4 separate regions of the Homo sapiens genome follow, and all the other regions are reported to be linked to region 3. The links are microRNA targets in miRTarBase. Many come from high-throughput screens and were not tested one by one. Region 3 holds a microRNA gene; each other region holds the end of a gene's coding sequence.

What was found. Region 3 holds the annotated microRNA hsa-miR-15a-3p (CAGGCCAUAUUGUGCUGCCUCA, at 1,396-1,417, opposite strand). A microRNA usually pairs through its seed, bases 2 to 8, with sites in the 3' UTR of a target mRNA and lowers its output. Matches are read on the target gene's strand: a 7mer-m8 pairs with bases 2 to 8, a 7mer-A1 pairs with bases 2 to 7 and ends in A, and an 8mer does both.
Region 1: the mRNA of DDI2 is a reported target of hsa-miR-15a-3p. The part of its 3' UTR that is shown has no 7-base or 8-base seed match.
Region 2: miRTarBase lists TFAM as a target of hsa-miR-15a-3p. Seed matches in the 3' UTR shown: 7mer-m8 at 1,208-1,214 and 7mer-m8 at 1,247-1,253.
Region 4: the mRNA of SH3BGRL is a reported target of hsa-miR-15a-3p. Seed matches in the 3' UTR shown: 8mer at 1,757-1,764.

The regions. Positions count from the first base shown.
Region 1 is chr1:15,656,328-15,659,576 of GRCh38, forward strand. DDI2 (DDI proteasomal shuttling factor 2) reads left to right here. Exons shown (of 10, transcript NM_032341.5): 9 at 290-352. The coding sequence ends at 306. Among named protein-coding and RNA genes, the nearest start is that of RSC1A1, 1.8 kb to the right of the region's middle.
Region 2 is chr10:58,394,773-58,397,772 of GRCh38, forward strand. It overlaps TFAM (transcription factor A, mitochondrial), which reads left to right. Exons shown (of 7, transcript NM_003201.3): 7 at 156-3,000. The coding sequence ends at 302. Among named protein-coding and RNA genes, the nearest start is that of TFAM, 11 kb to the left of the region's middle.
Region 3 is chr13:50,047,735-50,050,983 of GRCh38, forward strand. It overlaps MIR15A (microRNA 15a), which reads right to left and starts at 1,467; the gene lies at 1,385-1,467. DLEU2 (deleted in lymphocytic leukemia 2) reads right to left here. Exons shown (of 14, transcript NR_152566.1): 6 at 1,850-1,928. MIR16-1 (microRNA 16-1) reads right to left here and starts at 1,327; the gene lies at 1,239-1,327.
Region 4 is chrX:81,296,842-81,300,090 of GRCh38, reverse strand. It overlaps SH3BGRL (SH3 domain binding glutamate rich protein like), which reads right to left. Exons shown (of 4, transcript NM_003022.3): 4 at 1,544-2,896. The coding sequence ends at 2,864. Among named protein-coding and RNA genes, the nearest start is that of SH3BGRL, 96 kb to the right of the region's middle.

The DNA.
Region 1 (3,249 bases), not on the chromosome of region 3:
TCACCTGTCTCACATTTGCCCGTGAATTCTCTATGTGTAGAAACAAAATTAATTTCTTTACAAGATCTATTAAAAATCTGTTGAAATTAACAGATTGCTGTGTGTATTGTGAGAGAATGGAAGCAACCAACAAATATTTTGGATGTCCAAACTACAGAAACATCCCTCAACTTGGAATCTACCAGTTCCTGATTTTAAAGATGGCAAAAGAACGGAAACTATAACCCTGCATGCTGTGTGGTTTGCATTGTTAACCCAAGTTTGCTTGTCTGTTTCCTAATTCACACAGAGCGTCAGAAGCCATGATGCATGTAGTGTGTGTGTACTGCAGCTGGAGTGGGCCCCAGACCAGGTATTTATAGACACCATGTTAAGCCTTCCATCCAGTTGTCATCTGTGATCTGACAGTCTGTATCCGCAGCAGTTTGGGAAGTTAGCATTTGTCATTCACCATTTCACCTTGTTCAATCTGGTTACAACTAGCCTATATGCATTTGTATTTTGGCATGCATACATGGATATGTAACATAAACTCCTGTTTAAAAATGGATTCGTTATTAGAACCATCCAACAGGGAGAAAATCCCAGTTAAAACAGTGTCTATTATATCTACCCCATCTTGGCTACTATAAATATCACATCAAGAATATTGGCCTCACAACACTTTGTTGTTGGAGATAACTATGCTTTCATGGGTTTCATAAGTGCCTTTCCTCTGAAAAACTGAAAGCTGTTCTTTTACATTACTGCATACAACTACCTGGAGTTATAGAGGGTTAGAAATTTTAATTTTGTTGAAGAAGAAATGGAAACTTAGGCCAGAGGACTTGTCAGGGGTGACTCTGAACAACAGGAACTAAGACTTTGCTTTTCCTTCTGTCTCTGGCCTGACAGATTTTCAGGAAGCACTCTGCTTCCATTTCCTCTGATGTAAATAATGGTAAACATCAGCTCGAATACATTGGCTGACTTACTAAGAGGAGGAAAGATGGTCTTTTAAACCAGCATCATAAGACTTTGTAGGAGTTTGCAAGCTGGTTGGAATTAGATACATAGCATTTAGTTTCTCTTCTTTCTTTCCTTTTTCTTTTCCTTGTAAGGATAGGTTAAAAGCAGGCATAGTTGAATTATTCTTAATATCCACTGTCCTCATCCTCTTCTCCTGTCATTCTGTAAACTGACCTAGTCCTCCCCTACGTTTAGGACTTAGGCTAGTGAAACTGACCTTCTCAGCTACAAGAGGACTATATGCTACTTTTTTAGTACAAAATTCATTGAGGGTGTGTTCACCTTGACCTCACTTGTTTATAACTAACACACAAATACCAGAAGGCCCTTACCATACCTCTTTATGTTGCTTACATGGATATTTCACTACAGTGCATTGTTTCTGTTAACATTAGTTCAAAATTCAACCTCTTCCAGAGTCAGCCTTAGTTTTAAATAAAACTAATAACTGTTAGACATCTGGTGGTATGAAAATAAAAAAACTAATAACTGTGTTTCTAGACTCTAATGGGTATAGCCTAAACTGAGATAAGTGCAGTTTTCCTTTTTACTCCTAAAGTGTAAGTAAGGTAAGATTGTTTCATGGGAAGTCAATAGCTTCCTGAAACAATGCTTTGTCTTCTCATGCTGTTAACCAGTAGTTTATTAGAATGATTTAAAGCCTTTTGAATATAACTGCTTTGCTGCTTTTTAAGATCAAGCCCTCTTGTTGGATGTTAACATTTAGTACTGAGCATTTGAGTTGCATCTGTCCTAATAATAGATTGTATTTTGAAGTCATTTTTGTTACTGACCTTTTGATTTTTATTTTTTATTATTATTATTTTTTATTTTGACTGAGTTTCACTCTGTCACCCAGGCTGGAGTGCAGTGGTGCAGTCTTGGCTCACTGCAACCTCTCCCTCCTGGGTTCAAGCAATTCTCCCACCTCAGCCTACCTAGTAGCTGGGATTACAGGCACCCACCACCACGCCTGGCTAATTTTTGTATTTTTAGTAGAGATGAGGTTTCACCACGTTGGCCAGGCTGGTCTCGAACTCCTGACCTCAGGTGATCCACCTGCCTCGGCCTCCCAAAGTGCTGGGATTACAGGCATGAGCCACTGTGCCCAGCCCTTTTTGATTTTTAATTAAAGATCTTACAATGGTCGGGTGCGGTGGCTCTTGCCTGTAATCCAAGCACTTTGGGAGGCTGAGGCGGGCGGATCACCTGAGGTCAAGAGTTTGAGACCACCCTGACCAACGTGGAGAAACCTCATCTCTACTAAAAATGCAAAATTAGTCGGGTGTGTGGCGCATGCATGTAATCCCAGCTACTCTGAGGCAGGAGAATCGCTTGGACCCGGGAGGCGGAGGTTGCGGTGAGCTCAGATGGCGCCATTGTACTCCTGTCTGGGCAACAAGAGCAAAACACAGTCTTAAAAAAAAAAAAAAATTCTTACACTTACATGCGTAGAGGTCAATTTTTAACTGGATTGGTGGCAAAAGAAGAGCTGGAAATGATGTTTAATGATACTATGATGCTTACACTGAGCCGTCTTGTTTGGGTGGTCTAAGGTAGCAGTGAATCTAAATAGTCATTGCCAGTTGAAAAACTATTAATGAACCATCTCCCTCCACATTCCCCTTTCTTTAAAACATTTAAATATTCTTAACTTAGTTGCACACTATTGATGTGATAAAAACTTATAAGCCTTTTAAGTTTAGAGTTGTATTATTTGGTAGGATGATGATTGTGATTTAATCTGCTGATCATTAGTTTACTTTTGTTTTCTGAGTCAGATGCTCACCCAGTTTTACCATGATTTTTGGAAAGCTTGGCTAGAAATAAAATAGAACATTTGCTTCTCTGTCCCCAAGCATTATGTTATTTCTTATTTCTCTTTATAATTCCCTCTCTGTCCAGGTATACCTGGTTTAAGACTTCTCATTTGTAACCTCAGTGTTCACATTTGAAACAAGAAAAGTGCATTAACATGAGAATCATTCTGGTGCAAAGATTCTCAGGATTTGTAATATCCTTAAGAATCACCCAAGGAGCTTATTGAAAATGCACATTCCTGGATTTACTCTCAAGTATGGTACCCCAGGGTCTGCATACTTCACAAGCGTCCCTGGTGGTTTTAGGGCAAGTGGTGAAAAAAGTACACTTGGAGAAACTATTCTAGAGTTGTAGACTAGACTAGGGAATAAAGAAACATAAATGTCCTTCATTCCTGAGCACTAACCCCGCCATTATGTG
Region 2 (3,000 bases), not on the chromosome of region 3:
AAATATTTCTTCTCCAGTCTGCCTTTATACATGTAGAATGGTAATGTAATTTCTAAAGTATATACAGAAGCATTCCAGAAATTAATTGCTATTTTAAATAATCATTTTATCTCAAAAAATAAGTAAATCATTTTAACAGTTATGCTTTTTCTCAGTTATATATTCAGCATGCTAAAGAGGACGAAACTCGTTATCATAATGAAATGAAGTCTTGGGAAGAACAAATGATTGAAGTTGGACGAAAGGATCTTCTACGTCGCACAATAAAGAAACAACGAAAATATGGTGCTGAGGAGTGTTAAAAGTAGAAGATTGAGATGTGTTCACAATGGATAGGCACAGGAAACCAGTTAGGTCTCAATACCTGAAGCTATCGTAAAATTAAGAAAGGATAAAGTTGGTAAACCTTTTATATTTAGTATCTTTTTATTCAGCTCATGGACTTCTGCCAGCATAATACTTGCTTTGGAAAACCCAGATAAAGGTTCATGCAAACTTTATTTTGTGTTTAGGAACTACTGAGGATCAGAGTAATCCAAGCAAATGTGAATCATTTTACCTTTGACAAAGGTAAATCAGACTATGAAGTTTTTTTTATACAGGATGATGACTATGGAAAGAGTACTCTTGTTTCCTTATATTATGGAGGCAGGAGTTTCGTTTTCAAAATTGTTACAAATTGTAGAAGCCACGGTGTTCTGTGATATAAGTGTGTGTTTTTCATAAAGCAGGCAGAACTCATCTAGGTAAATTACAGTTCCTAGGTATAATTCACATTGTATTCAGAGTTGATGGTTGTACATATAAGTGATTGCTGGTTTTAGTTGCAACTTTGTATAAAAGGGACTGAGAAATTTATAAACTTTTTTCTTACTGTCTTTTTTCTAAAGTAAAAACAAAGAAATTATGTGCCAGATTTATGCATATTATTTTATGTTGCATAGAATAAAATTTTTAATCTTTAATTTTACATTTCCTAAATATATTTTAAGACGAAACATTTGTTCTATAGCTTTTCCCTTTTTTTAAGTAAGGAATTTTATTTTTTTCTGAATTATTTTCTCTCGTGAGTATATTGATCCAGAAAGAAAACTTGTATTATGTGTGTTTTAAAATGAGAAATCTAAAAAACGAAAAGTCTCCAAAGTCTCTGGAATTTGAAACACTTTGCATAACGTATAAAAGCCTGTTTAAGAGACAGCCAACTATGGCCTGTGGATCAAATCCAGCCTGCTGCCTGCTTTTTATGGCCTGTGAGCTAGGAATTGTGTTTATAATTTTAAATGTTTTTTTTTAAAGACTTTTATGATACTTGAAAATTAACATGAATATTTAGTGTTCATAAATAAAGTTTGTTGAAACACAACCAAGATCATTCTTTTACTTGTCTATGGCTGCTTTTCTGTGGCAGAGTAGCTGCCACAGAAACTATAGCCCACAAAGCCTGATATTTACTGTCTGTCTGTTTATGGAAAAAATTTATCAACCCATGGTCTATAGTATAGTGTGATATGACTACTGTTCCAATGTATTGAAGTGTTGGGATAGTTTTTTCAAATGTTTTCAGATGTTCTTGTTTTAGAATCATTGTCACCTTTAAGAGGAAAAAGGTCATCACTAGATAATCTAAACAAATTGTTGCTTCTCAGTGTTAGCAAGGAAAATAATCTAGTTTCAAATTACATTGCAGTATAATGAAAAAGATCCATATACTGTGGAATGATATTCTTTTAAAATTATTTGCTATGGCTTGGTAAAAATGTACTTTTTCCAGTAGCACATATCACAAGAACCTCACTGTAGTTGAAAGCCATCTTTCTTTAGTATTTGTTTATCCTTTTAGGAGAGTCAAGCAAAGGTTTTCACCACCTGTTTGAGCAGAATAATTCTCATCAGTTCACAGATATAGGATAACTCAATTTATATGCACTTTATGCGTTATGCAAAATATTTAGAAATTGTAGATTCTAGATCTCCAGAAAGACTTTGAAGACTTTGATGTCACAAAAAGATGACTTGTTATATGCTGAGCTTGACAAAGGTAGGAATGGGAGAGAAAAATAGTAGCTTATGAGGAAATATGAGGCTTTAAATATATAAAGTTGGATATTTTAAAATAACTTTTCCCTGTGGGAGCTTCTCACTCTGGGTGCAGACAGGACAGTGTTGGCCATTGGTGAAATAGATAGGATGGGTTTGAGGCCAGAGCAGTCTGGGAGTAGGGGGAAAGAGAAGGAGGTGTGCTAGTGTCTATCACAGGCTTTCTCAATTAGGTTTGCAGGAGAAAAAGCCCTAAGTCCCTGTGTCATCTAGAATGGTACTAATTATGTACAGTCCCTAGGAGAATGGAGAAAATCATAACTCAAATCATCGACTCAATTCTGTTCTCTTCAGATGAGCTCAGAGAGCACATAGGAGTGTTTGTAATGAGGGGTATGTAATGATTGAGATAGAGGAATGAGTTACATAAACATCTCGGGACAAATGCAGCATAGAAAACATCTTTGTAGTTACCCTGCGGGGAAATTTCCTCTGAGTTCTTTTAACATTAACTACCCGTATTATTTTATACTTAACATTCATATCATACCTTCCCAAATATATTGGGAAGTTCAGTGTTAAGTACGTTTCTCAAGTACTTAACAACTTAATATAGGGAGGAAAGGTGTAAACAGTGAAAAAAGAGCAAAACTATTTTATGGTAATTTTATGGTAGTATCAGCTTGTATTTGGTTCTCTGTTTCTAAAATAATGTAATTTTTAATATTTTAAATAATAGGATAACCTGGTTTCCAAGCCTTTTTTTCCCCCGACATCCAGAATACACACTGGATCCAAGCCTTTCTTAAACATCAGTACATGTGGAAGACTGGCATGCCATATACCAAATGCCATTCAGCTGTAACAGTATACACAGATTTTCTCTTATAAAGAATAAGAACATCATAACCAATGACCACTCATATAAAGTCTTATTTGTGTGTGTGTGTGTGTGTGTGT
Region 3 (3,249 bases):
ATCCACCCTCCTCGGCCTCCCAAAGTGCTGGGATTACAGGCTTGAGCCACTGTGCCCAGCTCTACTTTTCTTTTCTTTTTTTTTTTTTGTTGAGACAGAGTCTCCCTCTGTCACCCAGGCTGGAGTGCAGTGGTGCGATCTCAGCTCACTGGAAGCTCCGCCTCCCAGGTTCATGCCATTCTCCTGCCTCAGCCTCCCGAGTAGCTGGGACTACAGGCGCCCGCCACCACGCCTGGCTATTTTTTTTGTATTTTTAATAGAGATGGGGTTTCACCGTGTTAGCCAGGATGGTCTTGATCTCCTGACCTGGTGATCCGCCTGCCTCGGCTTCCCAAAGTGCGTGAGCCACCGCACCTGGCTGTCTACTTTTATTTTTAATAAAAAATTTTAAAAATACAAAAAAGTAAAAAAAAAAATTAAATTATGTTGACATTTTATATCAATAAAACTACAATGATAATTTGGTCTTACTCTGAGTTAAATCTTGAATACAAAAAAGTAAACAAAGTAAACAAGACCTTATTTTTGACTTATCAAACAAAAATCTTTGGCTAAGGATTTAAGAAAACATTTTAATAAAAACATGAAAAAAATAGTATACCATTATAAAGTTAGAAGACATAAGACTAAGACCCCAATCTGTGATGTGTAGCAAATTATTTGAGTTTTGTGTTTCCTTAGCTATCCAATGAGTGGGTTGGTCACTTGTAAGGGTTTTTCTACCTTTAAAGTTATGGTTAAGTGTGACGTTTTGACAACCAGAATTTTAGGTATTTAATTCACATATTTTGATGGCTTTTCCCCTTCAGATATAAAGAAATATTCAGAAACAGTACTAAATATTGTCTTCTAAGCTCTGTTCAAAATGCTTAATATATTTTATATTTATCTGTAAAGACATATTTTAAAAGTAATTTCAAAACAAAGGGAAAACTAGAATTTGTTTTATCCCAAGTAAAAATCTGAATTAATGTCTATGTTGAATATAAATGTGCATTAAAATAAATTCCTCTAATGCTGCATAAGCTTTTTAAAAAAACTTGATGGCATTCAATACAATTATTAAATTGCAATTACAGTATTTTAAGAGATGATACATCTGAAAAATTAGTATTAATTCATTTTTACAGAATCATACTAAAAATAACAAGATTATCAATAATACTGAAAAGACTATCAATAAAACTGAAAACACATTAGTAACATTAATATACATTAAAACACAACTGTAGAGTATGGTCAACCTTACTTCAGCAGCACAGTTAATACTGGAGATAATTTTAGAATCTTAACGCCAATATTTACGTGCTGCTAAGGCACTGCTGACATTGCTATCATAAGAGCTATGAATAAAAAGAAATATATTTTCTTCAGAAGATCAGATCCTTGTATTTTTGAGGCAGCACAATATGGCCTGCACCTTTTCAAAATCCACAAACCATTATGTGCTGCTACTTTACTCCAAGGTTTTATTTTTTTTAAACACACATTCGCGCCTAAAGAATATAAAAAATATTTTCTTTCAGGAAAAAAAGAATGCATGTAAAAAAATCTATGTTTAAACATTATAACATTGATGTAATATGCATAATTATTTTTAAGGAGATTTTAAGTAGAATAATAAAACATTTCTACATCAAAAACTTAACTGAAGTCCATTCTGTGCCCAGCACAGTGCTATAGGTTAGGAAACACAAAGAATAAAATGAGGAAAAGAAAAGCATTTATTTGCTATGCCAACTTAACAGGGCAATACAACTAAATGCTTAAACTTTTGAATATATTCAATATATGAAGTTATTTTTCCTTGTATAAACAAACAAGTAAATTTATAAAATTTGATCTTTACCTTGGTAAAAGGAGAATTTACAAACATTTTGTTCCTTGCAGTACACCTTTCAAAAGACATCTTCATCAAATAGGTAAGACTTCACATCAAGGGAAAAACATGAAATGACATACAAGAGCTCAGTTTCAATAAACTTAAGCTAGCAAAATGCAAATATACTTTTAAAGAAAAATACTTTAATTCTAAATGTTAATTTTATTAAATATCTAATTAAGACATTTTAATTCCAAATATAGTTAAGAAAAAAAGCTCTAAACAAACTAATTCTCCCTTAAATAATTTGTTATTAATAATCTAAATATTTTACTTTCAACATTGATCTTCATACTAGAAGTTCTCTTAGAGTTGGATATCATTTGATACAGTAATTCTAAAATATGAATCCTTAAGTAATTCTAAAATATGAATCCTTGGGATGATGAGTTAATTTGGTACCCTGAGATGAGAAATAAAACAAATCCCATAGCTCTTAATCTTCCTATTCCCTGTTTCTGGCCCATTTACCAGGTAAGGAAGAAACTCCTAGTTTCCACTTTCTCAGATGTAGAAATGAAATTCCTTTTCTCTAAAAGATATCAGAAAATTGCCACCACTCTAGTGGTGCCACCATTCAAGCCTGGACAATCTTTTTTGCCCCATGTTCTCATCATTAAAATGACTATGCTAAAGTTACATCTATTACAGAATAGTAAGGTGATGTACACAACCAAAGCACTAAAATTTGCTCTTCCATTCTAATATCTAATTACTTATACAAAGCACAGGGTCACATTCCATATGAAATTTTTCTGAGTATTTTTCCCATTAATAAAAAATATATGTAGCTAATCTCCTATCTAAGCAACCTGGATTTCACATATAACTCTGCTCCTTATTGTCTCAAGTTTCTGCACAACGTTTTTTAAATTTTTATTTTTTCTTTTTTTAAGAGAGTAGTTTCCGTATCTTTTAGAGAAAAAGAAATTCATTTCTACATCTGAGTAAGTGGAAACTTTAGGAGTATACTTCCTTACCTGGTAAATGGACCGGAAATAGGTAGGGAATAGGAAGATCAAGAGCTACAGGATTTGTTTTACTTCTCATCTCAGGGTACTCTGTTGCCCAGGATGGGGTACAGTGCCATGATCGTAGCTCACTGCAGCCTTGACCTCCTGGGCTTAAGTGATCAGTCCACCTTAGCCTCCCAAGTAGCTGGGACTACAAGTGCACACACCACCATGCACAGCTCTTTACATTTTTATTTTATTGTAGAGACAAGGTCTTGCTATGTTGCCTAGGATGTCTTGAACTCCTGGCCTCAAGCAATCCTCCTGCCTTGGCCTCCCAAAGTCCTAAAATTACAGGCAAGAGCCACCATGCCTGACCTGCACTTTTTTTTTATTTTTTGAGACGGACAGGGT
Region 4 (3,249 bases), not on the chromosome of region 3:
TCAAAAATGTGGTAACTAGAAGACACAAACCACAAAAGACCACATATTGTATGACTTTAGTTATATAAAATGTCTAGAATAGGTAAATCCACAGAGACAGAAAGTAAGTTGGTGTTTGCATAGTGCTGAGGGAGTGGGGGATGGGGAGTGACTGCTATTGGGTAGAGTTTATTTGTTGGGTGATGAAACATTCTAAACTTAAATCTTAGTGATGGTTGCATGATTCTGTGAATATAGTAAAAGTCACTGCCTTATACACTTTAAATGAGCAAAGTTTACAGTATGTGAATTGTATATCTCAGTAAAGATGTTAAAAAGACAATTGTGTGAAAATAGGAATTATGGTAACATTATAGTACTCTTTACAAAGGATTTCAAAATTTTGTTTGCTAAATAAAGGAAGGTGATAATAGATACAGGGGAAGAATGATGGGTGGAAGCAGAAGACTAGAAGGTTCAAATTAATCAAATGTGCATGTTTCTTAATCAGTTTTGTTGGAATTCTTCAAAAGAAAAGAAATATGTATTTTACATTAAAAAGATTAGACCAATGTCAACCTTTCAATATTTTTCAGCATCCACAACTGGGTAATAAAATCCATGTGAATCCTCATTTTTCCTTTTGCTGAATGAATGGAATATGTGCAATGAAATCTGACTTCACCAACATTTTCTGTATTTAAACTTTCCCAAGCAAGTAATTAACAACTTCTGTTTTAAAATTCTGTTTACCCCTACACTCAGACTCCCAAAGAAATGTTGACATTTAACAATGCAATCGACGTCCAATTTGCATTGTTTGGTGAAAATGAAAATCTTCCTGAGAGTCAAATATTCCCAAGAACAAACCAGCTCAATAACTGAACATAACAAATAAACAAGTCTGATTTACAAACAGAAACAATCTGAATGTAATATAACAAGTGGCAAAGATTATATTTTCCGGCCAAATATTTTGGAGATTTTTTTAAATAAAACTCACCTTCATATTCAGAATTTCACTTGCATTTTTGTATCTACAAAACATATTTCTCAGCTGACAAAATAAAATATTTCAGTTTAGGAAGACTCAATTCAACCTTTTACTTTAATATACTATGTTAATTTTAAGTTATATAAACATGGCAAAAAATACATCTATTTTTAAAGAATGCCCATTTTGGCAGTGTTAACTTATTTGACATTAAAATAAAAGTGAAAATGACCACATAAAATATTGCAAGTATCATCAGCAACATTTAATAAAGCTTAGGAGAAAATATTGACTAAAAAACTTTTTTTGCGTTTCCAGTGTATTACAAAGCACCCTGTTTTCTCTAGAGTTCTTTATGCCGTATTTTTGTAAACCCAATAAAATTGTTCATTTGACCTCATGTGTATTGTGAGATTAAAAGCCCTAAAAAGAAAACATAGAAAACGAAAACCTTGAATTGCATTCAAAGCTTTTTCTTTCTACTATTTTCTCTTTTTGCATTCCCAACCCTCTAAAAAAAGATATTACTCATCTAAAATTACTATTATATAAACTCCAAGAACACATAAGTTATGTTTCTAAAAGTACTGAGTTTATTTTAAAGCATAGCATCAAGTTTGAATCTCATGAAACAAAGGCATCTCTTCATTATATGTTGATTTTGGCAAAAAGTAAAGACCAGCATACAATAGATATACATGATAATGTAGTTTAAAGTAAGAGGTGTTTGCTTTTGGTAATAAGGTAGTGTGAAACTTACTATGTAAATCTATGTTGGTTATTTAGGCCATGTTTCTTGTCTTTTTAGAAGTCTTCAGGCTTAATATTTTAAAAGTTGCCCTTTTTATTTGATACTTCTACTTTTTGCTGGAATAGAGGCATAGAAAAGATTCTCACTGCTTAGACTAATACACTCATACAATACATGGCTAAACTGAAATAAAAAGGTAAGATATCTTAGGAATAGTAGCATTTACGATTGTGAGTTGTTTTAAACGGGCAAAACTACTAAGATTTGTTTTAGCAAAAACTCAAGGGAAACCAATCTTGGGAAATGATCGCCAACCTGTTTTATAAGAGTTATTTAAAAGTCTAATCTCTTTGCTAGAGAATGCCATTTTAAGCTTACTTGGCATCCCACTTTCATGATATACATATGCATATTTCACTGAGGCAAGGAACTTGGATATATCATTCCATCATAGCTGTGTAGTTAAACAAGGAACTTGTCCACTGAATGAATCTATTGCTTTTGTGCGTGTAAAAGGATATCTATTCTGATCACTGAAATGTGCAATGAAAGGCTACATTTAGAAGCTCAGAAAATCTGTGGTTCAATATGTAGAAGTTTCATCTACAAAAGAATGGGAATGTTATAATTACGATAGGAAATTACAACGTTTAACATATCATAAACATTACCTGCAAGAACTTTTTAATCGCAGTAATATAGCATCAAAAAGGTACATATTCTTGTTCATGAAAATTAATGAGGCAACTTAGGAATGAGAGACAGGTTATTTCTCTTTCTCCTTTTTAATGTAGAGCTGCAGATACACTTAAGTTGCCATAGTAATGGCAGAAGGAGGGAAGGGTGTTTTCTTTGTAAAATCATTGGTGTATACAGGATGGCTTGGCAGGTAACAACACTATTTCTACGATATCTACTTATTAATATAATTTTATGTTAATATCCCATTCTCCTCACCATAATCACCATAATGTTCAAATTTTAATTTTGTATTCATTTTGAATGTTTGCATGTGAAAACCCAACTAATCTATTATTTCAACATTAAGCCTATTTCTTTTGAAGCAAAGCTAATTCTGCTATTTTATAAAAGCAATGGAGACTCATTTTTCAGGATGCTTAAAGCACAGTGCTTAAGGTTCATGCTTGCTGCTTTGCTTGCACTTCTGCTTCCTGAAATGAAAAACAAACAAAACAGATAAGTTTAAACATCACAGAGCAGACACCCATGTGTATTTTAGTCAGACTACATTAGTTCCAACTACTAAGAATAAACAAAAGCCCCCAGAAGAGATTTCTTAAAAAGTTCTTAATAGAAAAACTATATAATACAAACAGATTTCTAGAAACAGATACACAAAAAGACTACCTAATCATTCCTAATGATTTGGAATACTTTCATGAAAGCAAGTGATATACAATTATAATTGATATTTTACTTAAAAATAGTCAGTTTCCTTTTTGTGTGATTTTTTTTCATGAAAATTGAGAATATAAAAACATGGTTACTTAAGTTTAAAATTAGT